Linked DNA regions of Homo sapiens: regions 1 and 3 are each linked to region 2. Evidence: fine-mapped expression QTL. A gene starts in region 2. Each other region holds a variant in brackets. All regions are shown on one strand. Distances are between the middles of the regions. Region 1 holds the start of EPPK1 (epiplakin 1). Region 2 holds the start of HSF1 (heat shock transcription factor 1). Region 3 overlaps HSF1 (heat shock transcription factor 1).

Evidence for each region.
Region 1: its variant is fine-mapped to the expression of HSF1 in CD4 T cells (BLUEPRINT, PIP 0.95).
Region 3: its variant is fine-mapped to the expression of HSF1 in whole blood (TOPMed, PIP above 0.99). The same link has a PIP of 0.9 or more in T cells, esophagus mucosa, fibroblasts and unexposed skin.

What each region holds. Positions count from the first base shown.
Region 1 is chr8:143,878,347-143,881,069 of GRCh38, forward strand. It overlaps EPPK1 (epiplakin 1), which reads right to left and starts at 121. Exons shown (of 2, transcript NM_031308.4): 1 at 92-121. RefSeq lists a silencer at 175-264 and an enhancer at 831-1,473. The variant G/A (reference allele first, on the strand shown) is at 1,504.
Region 2 is chr8:144,289,907-144,292,653 of GRCh38, forward strand. It overlaps HSF1 (heat shock transcription factor 1), which reads left to right and starts at 1,698. Exons shown (of 13, transcript NM_005526.4): 1 at 1,698-1,968. The coding sequence starts at 1,852. BOP1 (BOP1 ribosomal biogenesis factor) reads right to left here and starts at 1,532. Exons shown (of 16, transcript NM_015201.5): 1 at 1,366-1,532. The coding sequence starts at 1,464. RefSeq lists silencers at 1,276-1,775, 1,886-2,045 and enhancers at 2,177-2,747, 2,436-2,495.
Region 3 is chr8:144,310,858-144,313,604 of GRCh38, forward strand. It overlaps HSF1 (heat shock transcription factor 1), which reads left to right. Exons shown (of 13, transcript NM_005526.4): 5 at 317-392; 6 at 464-525; 7 at 648-744; 8 at 843-979; 9 at 1,106-1,387; 10 at 2,654-2,747. Among named protein-coding and RNA genes, the nearest start is that of MIR6848, 5.1 kb to the right of the region's middle. RefSeq lists an enhancer at 1,928-2,459. The variant C/A (reference allele first, on the strand shown) is at 1,338.

The DNA.
Region 1 (2,723 bases), 410 kb before region 2:
CGAGCCCGCACCCGCACCCGCCGCACCTGCCCGCACCCGCCGCACCTGCCCGCACCCGCCGCACCCGCCGCACCCGCCGCACCCGCCGCACCTGCCCGCTCGCCGCTCGGTCCGCAGTGTCTCCGCGCGCCCGCTCCGCCCGCATTTCAAGCCCCACAGGCCCCGCCCCCGTCTAGGGCGGCGCCCAGGTCGGGGCCCCGACGCGGGGCGGGGCGGGGCGGGCAGGTGCCGGAAACCCCGCGCGGCCCGGGCCTGGCGCTTGCACCCCGGGCAAGGGGCGGCGGCTGGGCAGCCGGGACCCTCCCCTCGTCCCCAGCAGGGAGTCACCGCGAAGGAACGCAGGGCGGGCGCGGAGGCGTCCTGTGCCCTTCAGAACAGCTTTTTTTTTTTGGGAAAGGAGTTTGGAGTGAAACGCGGACCGGCCAGAGCGGCGGTTTCTATCCCCACAAGCCACTAATGCGGTGCGGGCTGGTGTCCCTGCCTCCAGCCCCGACCCCACCTTGTCTGCTCAGCTTCCTGGGGACGCTGCTTCACGTCGTGTGTCTGCTGGGTCCAGGGGTCTTCAAGGCTCTCCTTGGCAGGCCCCCCTGCCCCCATGACGTTGTAAGAGCTGGGATGTCCTGCCTGGAGCAGTGCCAGGCCTCACCCCCCGGTCTGGCTCCTCCACCTGGGCACAGAGAATGTTCCCTGTCACCCTGGGAGTACCTGGTCCCCTCTCTGAAGCCCATCCTGGCACCCACCTTCCAAGGCTGGGGCATGCCAGAGACACTGGGCATGGAGGCTCACAGCCTCGGGGGCTGGCCTGGGGGCAGCCTCAGCCTGGCACGGGAACCTTCCATGGATCTTCTGGAGGGCCCTCCCCTTGGCTGCCCCGATATCCCAGGTGGGCAGGGCCACGGAAGTACAGGGCCCAAAGCCCCTCCTCCTCTGTCCCCAAGGCCCCTCCTCCTCTGTCCCGTAGTCCTGGAGGTCCTGAGGGCTCAGGTGCTCCCCACCCCCACAAGTGCCCCCTTCTCCCAAGCTCCAGCCCCCACCTCTGCCTGAGTCATTCTTGACCAGAAAATCATCCAGAGCCAGCCAGCCACCTCCAATGCACACCATGAGGGTAATTGCAGGCGCCCACGCAGGTGCAGGAGGGACAGGTTAGGCCTTCAGGGGTTAGGGTGCTTGGGACCACTGCCCTGGCTCTGCTCTCACCCACCCACCAGGTCCACACTCACACCTGCTCACCCAGGCTGCCTGGACCCTGTCCACACCTGCCACACTGGCCGCACAGCATGGCTGCTGCCGACTGCGGGGCCCTGACCCCAGAGGAGCTCTGGTGGAACCCGCATTTCCCCAAGGCACTGCCAGGCCAACCGCATCCATCCCCAGCCCTGCTCACCGGATGCCTGGACACTGTCTGTGTGGTCTTGCTGGGAGGCATGGTGGTGCTGGCTATGGCCTGTGGCCTGGAGCACACCCCAGAGCCACTTCTTCCTGCGGTGAGCCATTGCAGGCAGC[G/A]CCCCTGCCAGGCCACAAAACCTGGGTGTATGCCAGCCCCTCGCTGCAAGAAGGGGGTGTTAGGCTGGCCAGACCAAGCCTTCTTGTGTGCCCAGGGACGGGCCACATGCCTGTCTGCTCCTCACCCCTCCGGTATAGGCAGGTGGCACAGAGCTGGCCCTGCTCCGCTGCACCCATTTCTGCCCGTCACCCCTCCAGTATAGGCAGGTGGCACGGAGCTGGCCCTGCTCCGCTGCACCCATTTCTGCCCGTCACCCCCCTGGTATAGGCAGGTGGCATGGAGCTGGCCCTGCTCTGCTGCACCCACTGGCATCTGTCCCCTGGCTCCTCTCCCTCGGCTTTGTCTTCCTGTGACTCCAGATCCCCTGCCCTGTGGTGGCCCCCAGCCCAGTGACCTCTGGGGACACCTCTGGGGGCAGACTTGGGTGCCTGCCCTACTCCCCAGGTCCCTGGGCCACTCCCAGTCAGGGCTTCTGGGAGCCACCACCTCCCCAGGGGCTCCAGTCCAGTGCTTCAGCCCAGCAGTCCCCGGAGCCACAGGCCACTCCTCCAGCCCCCAGGCCTGGGCCTATACCACCTACACAGCAAGGAAGGGCATCAGGGAGGGTGTCAGGAGGTGAGCGAGAGGGCTCCCATGCCCAGTACTGCCCACGGCTCTACCCACCTCCTCCTGGCACTGGCACCTAGCTTCCCCCTGCAGGTCAGGGAGGCTCTCAGAAGACCTGGTCCAAGGAGGGAGGTCCCAGAGCCCCAAGACCAGTGCCCACGCTGCCCCTGGGCTGCTCCATGGAGTCACCGTGCTGGTTGGAGCCTTTGGCCAGGATCCCCATTGGTCCCTTGGAGCCTGGCATGGCCCAGCTCGAAGGGGAGTGCCCGCCATTGCTCCATAAAGCATCTGGGAGCAGGGTGTCCCCTCCACGGCACATGGCCCAGAGAGGAGACAGGGCAGATGCAGGCAGGATGGAGGGCCCGGCGGGAGCGGGTGGGACAGAGCTGAGCAGCAGGCTGACCTCTCCACCAAGGGCCTGGACATAGCAGCCGGCAGCTCCAACCGCAGGCCCAGGTACAGGGGGCGGGCAGCCTTGGGGGTGAGCCTTCCTCTCAGGCTGGGTGCCCTCACAGCAAAGACATGGGCTGCTCTCCCAGTGGCTCTCAGGGGACACCTGCCATCAGGGGAGCCCAGTGATGCAGCTGCCTCCGGGGGCAGGGAAGGGCTGAGG
Region 2 (2,747 bases):
ACTCTAACCGCAACCACGCACCAACCCACCCACTCCTCTCTCTGAGCAGGACCACAGCTGCCTCTGAGCAGAGCCCTGCTGGCTGCGTGACACCGGCACACACAGTGTTCGGGTCCTTCACTGGCCTTAAAGGGTGGAACAAGAACTTAGACTCTTAGGAAGCAGTTGAAGGCCAGGCACAGTGGCTCACTCCTGTAATCCCAACACTTTGGGAGGCTGAGGCGGGTGGATCACCTGAGGTCAGGAGTTCAAGACCAGCCTGGCCAACATGGTGAAACCATCTCTACTAAAAATACAAAAATTAGCTGGTGGTGGCGGGCACCTCTAATCCCAGCTACTCAGGAGGCTGAGTTAGCCAGGAGGTGGAAGCTGCAGTGAGCCAAGACTGCACCACTGCACTCTAGCCTGGGCAACAGAGCCAGGCTCTGTCTCAAAAAAAAAAAAAAGAAAAAAGAAAGAAAAGGAAAAGAAAAGAAAAAGGAAGCAGTTGAATGCAGAATTCTAGATTTTACTGTTTTCCTAATAGTTTACAAGTCTCACTTAAGGTACGACCTGCATGTATTAGCTATTGCATACCGAGTGTTCACACAATGCCTCTCTCACACAGAGTCATGATGTGTCTTGGTATTCAGTCGGCTACACAATCACAATAACTAGTGGAAATGGCATCCGTGGCCTGGGCGCAAACAACTGGCTCCTGAGGACCGTTTAGTCCAAGGGTGGAAGTCGCAGAACCTGGCGCCTAGAGTGGCCTGCGGGCCATTCAGCCCATGGGAGCCAGGATGAGTTGAATTCGCTTCACAAAGCAATGGGGCAGTTTCAACAACCCAGCGCGGCCGCGGCCGAGGGGGCTGTGAGGGGCTGGCTGTCCATCCCCTCCACCACCCAATTTGATGATCCCCACAACCAAGACAGGGCTGAGCTAGCAGAGAGCAACAGTGAGTTCTAATACAGCAAATGCAGCAGACACTGGGTTCTATTCAGGTTTTCTTATTCTCATGTCTATCCCATGAGCATAAAAACGCAATTAACTAGCGTATACGTAGGTTAAGCATTTACTGGGAGCGCAAGCCGAGCCCTTTTATTGGCAGGATGCACAAATGGAACGGCTGGAGAGGCTGCTGCAAGGGGCGCCCCGTCCCCACTCCCCGCTCCCCCGTTTCTTTGCTTCCCGGACGCCGTCCTTTACCCCGCAGTCCGCTCTGCCTGAGACCCCCCGATAGAGGAGCTGCACCCACGCCCAAGACCGATTCACTGGGCGCGGGCGCCCAGGTGACAGAAGCCGGGCCCACCCGCCCCAGCGCGGCCACGTGCCCGCCGGGCCCTCTAGGGACGCGCCCCGCCGCCCCGCATCGCCACAGTCACCTCCGGCTCGGGCTCAGGCTCCAGTTCGGGCTCAGACCGCCGCTTCTCCGGCCGCACGCTCGGCGCCGCCGTGCGCCCCGCACCCCGCGAACCCGCCATGCCCCACCGCGCGCCGGCCGCCACCCGCACAGCCGCTTCCGACAGCGACCGGGCCGCGTGCGCAGGAGGACGCGCCCCGCCCAGCCCGGCCCCGATTGGCGGGTGGAGGGAAGGGGGTGGGACCAACACGCGCAGGCGCGCGGCTGGGCCGGGGACCAGGGCGGGGTCGGGGCCTGCGTGCTCGCGCCGGGGGTGACGCGGGAGGGCGGCAGCGGCGGCGGCGGGAGCGCGCCCGTTGCAAGATGGCGGCGGCCATGCTGGGCCCCGGGGCTGTGTGTGCGCAGCGGGCGGCGGCGCGGCCCGGAAGGCTGGCGCGGCGACGGCGTTAGCCCGGCCCTCGGCCCCTCTTTGCGGCCGCTCCCTCCGCCTATTCCCTCCTTGCTCGAGATGGATCTGCCCGTGGGCCCCGGCGCGGCGGGGCCCAGCAACGTCCCGGCCTTCCTGACCAAGCTGTGGACCCTCGTGAGCGACCCGGACACCGACGCGCTCATCTGCTGGAGCCCGGTGAGGGCAGCGCGCGGGCGCGGGGCCCGTGGGGACCGGGAGGGAGCAGGGCCGCGGCGGACGGCGCGGGAGGGCTGCGGGGAGGGGCCCTGCCGCACTTCAGCTTACGCGCGGTGAGCCTGCCCTGCCCCCGCCAGAGAAGGGCGGCGGGTCCCGAGCCTGCTCAGACCCAGAGCCTTAAGTTGGGAAAGCGGCTACGAGACCCACACTCGGTTCAACCCCTGCCCCAGCGAAGTTTCCCTGGGATGGGGAGAATGGGGCGTCTCTTGTATTGGGCTTCTGCTAACTGTTGGGCGGTTGCGGAAGTGTCCGCGCTTAGGGCAAGCACCCGGCTTCGCCAGCGGACGCTATGCCCCAGAGGACATCGGCGTCCCCAGGGGACAGCCTACGGGGTGCTGGGTCGGCAACTATTAGGAGAAAGTCAGGACTTGGCACGTGAAGTGGAGGGCGTTGCTGTAGTGGAACAGGAAAGGCAGTGGAAACAGTAAGACGTCATGAAGCTTCAGGTTGATCTCAAGCCCGTTTCCGAATCCCAAATCTGGGTTTCCCAAGAGGAGTTTTGTTTTTCATTCCTTATGGGGCATCTTTATTCGTGTTTCTGTCTTCAGTTGCCTGGCAGCAGGCTTGTTTACATGGTCCGACCCTGCAAGACCGGACAGCTCCGGTTTGCAGAAGTAAATCAGTGATTGTCTGGAGTTGGAGATCAGAATCTGCTGTTCACATCCCGGCTGTGACGTCGTGTCCGGTGAGGGGCAGAGCCACCGCCTGCGGCTGGCAAG
Region 3 (2,747 bases), 21 kb after region 2:
GCCTGTGTCCAAGGCAGCCCTCCAGGTGTTTGCCAGGATGGATGCCAGGATCCGGGTGCACCTGGCTCGCATGGATCCATCCCCAACACCCTACGTGACACCAGGTGTCCCCGGCAGGGAGGGGCAGTGGGACCAGCAAGCCCTGGCCCTGGCCCCCAGTCCCTCCACACACAAGTTCTCATCCTGGGGTGGGCCAGGCCAGACATGGTCACACTTACCCCTGCTCCTGCATGGGGGACAGGGAGGGTCTGTGGGGCTCCCTCAGCCCTGGGGCTCATGGGATTGGGCCCCACTGACCCAGCCTGGTCTGTTGCAGTGAGAATGAGGCTCTGTGGCGGGAGGTGGCCAGCCTTCGGCAGAAGCATGCCCAGCAACAGAAAGTCGTCAACAAGGTGGGGGCAGGGCCAGAGGGCCGGCGGGGGCCCCACAAGGGCCGGGGTAACTGTGTCCTCTCTCTCCACAGCTCATTCAGTTCCTGATCTCACTGGTGCAGTCAAACCGGATCCTGGGGGTGAAGAGAAAGATGTGAGGTTTTGGGGATGCCTGCATCCACCACCCGGGGCCCAGGGCTGTCCCCCTTCTCTGTCAGCTGTGCCCCGGGTACCCCGAGGTGGGGGGTGGTGGCTGACCTGCACCCTTCCCCACAGCCCCCTGATGCTGAACGACAGTGGCTCAGCACATTCCATGCCCAAGTATAGCCGGCAGTTCTCCCTGGAGCACGTCCACGGCTCGGGCCCCTACTCGGTGAGTGCCGGAGACAGGGCACCCGCCCAGGCATGCAGGCGGCAGTGGGGTGGGTTGCCCCTGCCGGCACTGCATGGACCTCCTGCCTTTGATTGCAGGCCCCCTCCCCAGCCTACAGCAGCTCCAGCCTCTACGCCCCTGATGCTGTGGCCAGCTCTGGACCCATCATCTCCGACATCACCGAGCTGGCTCCTGCCAGCCCCATGGCCTCCCCCGGCGGGAGCATAGACGAGAGGTGGGGGCCGCATCACCCCAGCCATCCTGTCCCCCAATGAGGCGAGCCCCTGTGGGCCCAGGGCAGAGTTGGGGATGAGGTGGGGCTGGCCGAGACGCCAGCTCACCTGGCCCCCCTCGTGTGCAGGCCCCTATCCAGCAGCCCCCTGGTGCGTGTCAAGGAGGAGCCCCCCAGCCCGCCTCAGAGCCCCCGGGTAGAGGAGGCGAGTCCCGGGCGCCCATCTTCCGTGGACACCCTCTTGTCCCCGACCGCCCTCATTGACTCCATCCTGCGGGAGAGTGAACCTGCCCCCGCCTCCGTCACAGCCCTCACGGACGCCAGGGGCCACACGGACACCGAGGGCCGGCCTCCCTCCCCC[C/A]CGCCCACCTCCACCCCTGAAAAGTGCCTCAGCGTAGCCTGCCTGGACAAGTGAGTGCCGCCCACCCCTGGCCCCACCCACAGCGCCTGGACGCACAGCCCTGGGCTTCAGCCCCGACTGTCCCAGTGGACTGAGCAGGGCAGCTGGCGAGGCAGGACCCTACCCCCAACCTCGGAGCTCGGGGCTGGGGAGGGAGACAGGTGCCAGCCAGATCACCCCACAGTCCCAAACGCCACAGAAGCCACGGGCATGTCCGGACAGGCTGCCGGGCCCTGCTCTCAGCCACCCGTCCTGCTGCCGCCACCCTCGCCACAGGCCACGGGCCCTGGCAGGTCGTGCTGCCCAGACACATGGCAGGAGATGGTGAGCAGGGCCGGCCTCCACACCCCCAGCCCCTGCCTGCAATGGGGGCTCTTGTTTTTGTATCTTGCAGTTTGGCTCGCACTCCACAGATGTCTAGGGTCGCCCGCCTCTTCCCCTGCCCCTCTTCCTCTCCGCATGGCCAAGTCCAGCCAGGGTTAGCGCTGACCCCACTGGGGAGGGAGGAGGGCTCTGCCAGCGCTCGGGCCCTCCCACACAGCCGTGGACCAGACCCAGCCTGGCCGGGCATGAGCGTCGGGCCTGGGCGGCAGCAGCCGAGACCCCTCTGTGGCGGGGGCTCAGTGTCGTCATGGCTCCCCTGGCCACGGGCCTGTGGTCATTGCCTGTGACAGGGATGACAGGGACAGGCCTCCCTGCTCTGGCACGGCCTCTGGTGTTGGCAGGATCCAGACTGCGGTGCTGACTGCACTTCCTGTCAGGCAGGGTCTCCAGGGCACCTCTGGGACCCAGCCTGGCTGTCCGTCCCATAGCCCAGGTGTGCCCTGTGGCCTAGGGCTTTCTTGGTCACAGCCACCAGACCGTGGGTCTCATCCCCACAGCAGCACCAGGGCAGGGACTGAGCCACCCACACACTGAGCAGAGCCCCACCTGTTTTCCCAGTGCAACGGGAAACCTCACCAACCCTGAACACTGAAATCCCTGATCCTTGTGCTGGAGCTGAATACGCCCCTTGTCTCCTGGGTCCACTGCCACCAAGGCCCCCAGGCCCTCATGGCAAAGGGATGCCCAGCATAGGCCCAGCCGCACCCCTGCAGGGCACAGAGCCTCCACTGCCTTCCAGGCCGTCCTCGAATGCGCTGCCCCCTCCAGCCTGTGCAGGCGTACACGGGGGTGCAGCCTGGGGGGTACAGTCAAGGGGAGCCCTTCTCCCACAGGAGGGCATTGGGGTGTGGGGCCTGGGGCACTGGTTCAGGTACCGCCTTATCCCGGGCCAGGAATGAGCTCAGTGACCACTTGGATGCTATGGACTCCAACCTGGATAACCTGCAGACCATGCTGAGCAGCCACGGCTTCAGCGTGGACACCAGT